Linked DNA regions of Homo sapiens. The protein of the gene in region 1 binds, or shares a complex with, the protein of each later gene. Each region holds a gene or a part of one and is shown in the gene's direction. Other genes may lie near its edges.

The links. The genes of interacting proteins can lie anywhere in the genome.
Region 2: the proteins of PHF2 (region 1) and VRK1 are in contact, whole or in part, in a crystal structure (PDB 8F8Y), measured with the Homo sapiens proteins. Residues at the interface, in NP_005383.3 of Homo sapiens: Tyr7, Tyr14, Val16, Thr17, Arg18, Phe19, Met20, Ile21, Glu22, Trp29, Glu39, Ala42, Ile45, Asp46, Tyr48, Lys64, Tyr145, Ser147, Glu150, Lys175, Val178, Asp179, Tyr182, Ser183, Thr184; in NP_003375.1 of Homo sapiens: Pro2, Arg3, Val4, Lys5, Ala6, Ala7, Gln8.

The regions. Positions count from the first base shown.
Region 1 is NC_000009.12:93,677,465-93,680,124, forward strand, and holds the end of PHF2 (lysine-specific demethylase PHF2), read left to right. Parts: intron 1-123; coding exon 124-212; 3' UTR 213-2,123; downstream 2,124-2,660. UniProt on the Homo sapiens protein: Lysine demethylase that demethylates both histones and non-histone proteins. Enzymatically inactive by itself, and becomes active following phosphorylation by PKA: forms a complex with ARID5B and mediates demethylation of methylated ARID5B.
Region 2 is NC_000014.9:96,800,285-96,804,040, forward strand, and holds part of VRK1 (serine/threonine-protein kinase VRK1), read left to right. Parts: intron 1-3,756. UniProt on the Homo sapiens protein: Serine/threonine kinase involved in the regulation of key cellular processes including the cell cycle, nuclear condensation, transcription regulation, and DNA damage response.

The DNA.
Region 1 (2,660 bases):
TTACAGATGGGGGACTGCAGGCTGCCCCTTAGTGTCAGCGGGACCCTCCCCCCCACCGGCATGCCACGCCCCTTGCCATCTAGCTTACCTTCCCTTTTTGTGTCCCCTCCCCGACTCCCCTAGGAAAACGTACGAAAAAGGGCATGGCGACCGCCAAGCAGAGGCTTGGGAAAATTTTGAAAATTCATCGGAACGGGAAACTACTCCTTTAAGATTTGGAAAGCCAGGATCCTTCTGCTCCGCTCAGGACCCCCGGAGCCCCGCGAAAACATCTGCCTCCCAGGAGGGTGCCGAGCTGCCTCACCAGGGAGGGCCTTGCCTCTTCCCGGCTGCCATCTCCCCAACAAGCGTCTGTCCCTTCAGCCGGCAGAGCGAGCCCAGCGTGGCCCCTCAATTTGAAAATGGACGTCTTTTCTCAAGTTGCTAAGAGTGATCTGTCCCAGAAAAGCGGCCCTGCAAGTTTGAGGACCGCTTATTCCACTTTAAGGACAGCCTTCAGGCCCCCTGAGCGTGGGTGTGATTGCAGGGCCTCTGCAGCTCTGCTGAGAGCATGAGTCCTTCAAGGAAGACAGAGTGAGCCAATGCTCACCAGCCCCAGAGTCAGAGCTGGCCACAGGCTGGCAGCCTCCAGGGGCTTAAAAAAAAAGGCAAAGAACACAGAAAGAGGAGGAGCAAGTGGGATGTTTATGTCCCCCCTTCTCTTCCTGAGTGATTCTCAGCCAAGTCCAGACAGTGCTCGGCGGGTGAGGAAGGGTCTGCCCCGAGCTTTCTGGTTGGCAGGTGGCAGCAGGATGGTGGGTGTTCAGCCTGAATGCCCAGGAGCATTTCTGGGGGGCAGCTAAGACTGGCAGCTGGGTTGGTGTGTTAGCGGGCAGGGGAGCCATTGTGGGGTCCCCAGGAAAGGGCAAGGGCTCAGCCACATCTTGGGGTCTGGGAGGCCCAGGCTAAGCCATGTGGCAGGGACCGTCTTGCCCTGCTGGCCACACTCTGGAGAAGCACTTCTCAGCCAAGGCACCCCTGCCCTGGGACTGGCAGGGCAGGGGCAGGGGCAGGGACAGTGGCCAGGCGGCCCGAGGACTTACGGTCGGCACTTCTCTGTTCTCCCGTGTCAGCGTGTGGTGTCGCCTGCATGGGTCGTACCTGGATGGTGTGTCCACCATCGACACGGAGGGGCTGGATTTGTTTCTCAGGCAATCCTGTATTTTAATTTTAGATGTATTTCCTGAAGCATATTTTTCATAGAATGTAGCGTGTAAATAGCTTTTTAAATAACTTCTTTTTTATAAGAGTAAAAGTATCTTTAGGAATTTCTTTCTATAGAGTTCTTCATTAACATTTATACGAGTTTTTTGCTGAGTCAGATGGACAGTTGGGTTCTGATGCTTTTTCCTTCTCCTTTCCTTTTATTATTATTATTTTTTTCTTTTAAGAACTAAGGTATTGCCTGAAAAACAAGTGATGTCTGTGCAGCCTTACACTCTGTCTTTACAGAAGCAAATAGTACACAAAAGATCTATTTCAGACACATTTTGAAGATGAATCTTCAACTTTAATACCAGCTCTTTGTTTTCCTTGTATGATGAGGGGATTGGGGGATACAGTTATTTTACTAGCACCTTGTGAAGTGTTTCCGTGTTTTGTGATGCTGTAATTTATTAATGTTTGTAGCTTTTTATATTTGTACATTTCTTATGAGCTTTGTTTATATACCCATTACCTGGATGTTTTTGTCCACTGGGAGAGGCAGCTTGGTGGAGGCCTTATCCACTCCCACTTGTCCTGTTTGGAGGGACGCAGTCCCTAGGGCCCGAGACTGGGTGGGAGAGGGGGAGTCTCACGGGGCCCCAGGCTTATTCAGAACTGGTGTTTTTAAAGTTTCCTTTACCCTGCCCTTGTTGAACATTTATATAATCTAACCTGGACATCAAGCTGTTCTCTCTCTCTCTTTTTTTTAATTTTATTATTATTATTTTGGCAACATGTACATTTCTAACAAAGTTTATCGTGGCTATTAAAGTGTTTTATTTCCCAATTCATATTACTCTTGTATCGAGTCCATGAGGTCTAAGGCAACTTAGATCAAAGTTTTAAAAAAGTAAAAATATTTCAGGTTTTGTACAGAACCATGTCTGTGTCATTTCTGCCTCGACTGTAGTTGTTCACCCTGGCAGTGAGGGTGGTGGGGAGGCTCCAGCCACCTGCGTTCCTCATGGAAAGCTTCGGGTTGCTCAGCCAAATCACACACAGCACCCCAAGCTGGCTGGCAGGAGTGGACAGAAGAGACCCTCGGGGGCTGCAGGGGTGGCAGCAGCGTTTGTCAGTCCCAGCCCTGAGGATGTCCTTGGGAAGCCTCTAGAACCTTCTTTTGGACTCAAGGGTATGGCGTTTGGCTGAGTCCAGTAGGCACACACATGTGCACCCCAGCACGGATGCACACCCAGAAGCATTCAGTCCCTTGCACGGTTCTAGCCTAAGTCTGATGTGATTACAGCTAACTACCAGGAACAGCCCTTACCTGACAGAGGCACTCAAATGGTGCAAGCCCAGGGAGGGTGCTGAGCGCAGGGGTGGGGTCGCTGCTCGTGATGTGTGGCAGGCAGGGCTGCTGGGACACAGGTGAGGCCTGGGTCAGTCTGTTGGTGGGGGTGCATGCGTGGGGG
Region 2 (3,756 bases), on another chromosome or scaffold:
TGCTGTTTTGAAGTAATTTCATGCACTTTCCCAATTACTCCTGCTCCATCTCTCCCAATGTTGTCTTAAATCTTTGCACTCAAATTCAAGCACATCCTACTCCTCCTGTTCTGAGTGACATATGGGCAACACTTTAAAAAAGAAAAGCTCTCTAGAAAATCTAGAGAGGTACGAGCGATGGCCCTTCTCCCATATTAGGAGTTAGATTTTTAGTATTCATCAATAAATACTGATGAGAAGAAACTGCTCTACTTTTACCAACATTCTTCAGGAAATTTATTAAGATTTTTATTAGCCACAGTATCTTTGTCAGCTTGGAAACATATATGTTTGTGAATCACATTTATTTAGTCTTTAGGTAAGTATATGGATTTTGATGATTCTTTGCAGTTACTCCTATCTCTCTATGGGTTTCTTGCCCATAGGATGGGAACCAGTACTCTAGGATTTGAAAATTAAGGTAGATACTGTTCACACTGGCAAATATTTAAGATGAATATTAAACGTGTATACTAAAATGTTTATTGGTAAGTAATTCATTAAATGGGAAGATATACTAGATGAAGTAAATAATTAAATTGCAAGCACAAGCAAATTAAATTTGAGATTTGGGAATGGTCTGTCATATACTTTTAAAGCAAATATCATACTGATAATGGAAGGACACGTGTCTTGTGGAGCTCAGTATCAGGAACAATATAGTTGGTCCTGCAGGGGACTAAACATGAGAACTGAAAGTCATTAGGAACACGAGCAGCCTCATTCCACTGTTCCAGGGACCTTATAATTTCTTTCTGTGTATTTATTTTATTTTCTTTTTGAGGACCGTCTGTCTGGCTGTTTGTATGTCGGCAGATATGTCTGCTCTAGACTTAGATACTTGCTTTAAGAATCCAAAAGAGATTGCATTATCTAATTGTCATTTATATCTAAAATTAAACAAACCATGAAGTTAGACATAGCTAAGATAACCACAGCTTTATTTCAGGTTAATTGCTTTTCTTAGATTGTTTTTATCAAGTGACAGCTAAAGAAAAGTCATCATTTGATGACACTAAGTATTAGTGCATTGTGATTGCGTTTCACAATATTAAGTGTTAGAAAGAACTATTAGACCTTAAGTATTTATAGAATGTGTCTGGAAGACACAGGGAGAGAAACTGTTAATGTTTCTACTGTAGTCTTTAGAGTTGCTTTTTTCACATCTTATTGCAGTTTACTATGTAATTTGGCAACAGCTATCAACATAGAGATTATATGTAATTACAGTGTACCCTTGAACAACTCAGGGGTTGGGAGTGCTGACCCCCATGCAGTTGAAAATCCATGTATAAGCTTTGACTCCTCAAAAGCTTAACCACTCATAGCCTGTTGACCAGAAGCCCTACCAATAGCATAAACAATTAACACATATTTGTATATGTACTATATGCTATATTCTTACAATACAATAAGCTAGAGAAAAGAAAATATTATTAAGAAAACCCTAAGAAAGAGCAAATATATTTATTGTTCATGAAGCGGAAGTGGGCCATCTTAAAGGTCTTCATCCTCATTGTCTTGGTGTTGAGTAGGCTCAGGAGGAGGAACAAGAGGAGAGGTTGGTCTTGCTGTCTTGGAGTGGCAGAGGCAGAAGAAAATCTGTGTATAAGTGGACCTGCACAGTTCACACTCATGTTGTTCAAGGGTCAGCTGTATGCATTTTTTTCTTAGAGGTAATCTGTTATTTGGGAATCAGGAAAAAAGTTTTAAAATTCATTTTTTAAAAATAAGTTCAGGTTATAACATTTAAGAAGTTTAATCTTGTTTTTTCAGACTTGCAGAAAATACTTTAGAAATGCTGACTCTAAAATTTATCTTTCATATGTTGCTGGTAGGAATGTAAAATGATATAACCACTCTGGAAATTAGTTTGGCAATTTCTCGAAAAGTTAAACGTACATTTGACACACAATCCAGCGATTGCACTCCTGAGCCTTTATCCTAGAGAAATAAAAACGTTCACAAAAAAACCTGTACATGAATGCTCGTAGAAGCCTTGTTTATAATAGCTAAAAACCAGAAACAACTCACATGTCCTTCAGTGGGTGAATGGTTAAATAAAATGTGATAGTCTTGCGGTAGAACACCACCATCAAAAAAAGAAACAAACTGTTGGTTCATGCAGCAACTTGGTTGGAGTTTAAGGGCATTGTATTGAGTGAAAAAAGCCAGTCTCAGAGATTGTATGATTCCATTTATATAGGATTCTCAAAATGACAAAATTATAGAAATGCAGAACAGACCGGTTTTGCTGGGGTTAGGGCTGACTTTCTTTGAGATGATAGAACAGTTCAGTGTCTTGTTTATGGTGATGGTTACATGAATCTGTACACATGACACAATGTCCTAGAATTAGACACACAAAAGAATGTAAAAGCTGACATTTCAATAAGTAGTTCAGTGATGAATATTGTATTAGTGTCACTTTCCTGCTTTTGATAATTGCACAGTGCTTGTCCATTTTATGGCTGTATCACATTTAACCATTTACCCATGGAAGGCCATGTGGGTTGTTTCTGGTTTTTGGTGATTGCAGGTAAAGCTGCTATGAACATTAATGTACAGGTTCTTTTGTGACTGTAAGTTTTAATTGTTCTAGAATAAATATCTAGAAATTCAACTGCTGGGTCATATAGTGATAAAACCTTGAGCCCTCTTATTCTGTCCCAGGTGGGGTGTAAATCATCCCTTTGTCCAGCATATCCACACTGTATACACTACCCACCAGCTAGTTAGTCACTCTTGGTTATCAGATTGACTGTCTGGTGTCTTGGTGCTTGTGTTTGAGAATCCCTTATTGTACTTAGTAGTGACCCCAAGTGCAAGACTAGTGATGCTGGCATTTTTTTTTTTTTTTTTTTTGAGGCAGGTCTCTTATCTTGTCCCCCAGGCTGGAGTGCAATGGTGTGATCTCAGCTCACTGCAACCTCCGCCTCCCAGGGTCAAGCGATTCTCTTGCCTCAGCCTCCCTAGTAGCTGGGTCACAGGCGCCTGCTGCCACGCACCGCAAATTTTTGCATTTTAAGTAGAGACAGGGTTTCACCATTTTGGCCAGGCTGGTCTCGAACTCCTGACTTCAGGTGATCCGCCTGCCTCTGCCTCCCAAAGTGCTGGGACTGCAGGGAGTGAGCCACCGCATCTGGCCGCTGACATATTGTTATAATTACTCTTAGTATTGTTGTTAATCTCTTAACTGGCTCCAATTTATAAATTAAGCTTCATCATAAGTATGTCTATCTAATGTATGTATAGGAAAAAACGTATTTATGTAGGGTTCGATACTCTCCATACTCTCCACCATTTAAGGTATCCACTGAGGGCTTTGGAATGTATCCCTCACAGATGAAGGGGGTGCTGCTGTGTTTGAGAGATACAGTTTCTCCACAACCTCACTACCATTTGGTATTGGTGATATTTTTTGTGCGTACTGGTATCTTGTCATGGCTTTAATTTGCATCCTAATGGCTGATGATTTCATGTGCTTATTTGCCATTCATATTTTTTTTGGTGATTTGTCTGTTCAAGTCTTTTACCCGTTTTGTGATTGGTTTGTTTTCTTACTGATTTTAGAGCATTCTTTATATGTTGTGTATACAAAATCCTTTGCCAAATATATGATTTGTAAATATATTCTCTCAGTCTCTGGCTTGTCTTTTCATTCTCTTAACAGTGTCTTTAGCAGCAAAAAAGTTTCAAATTTTGTTAAAGTCCAAC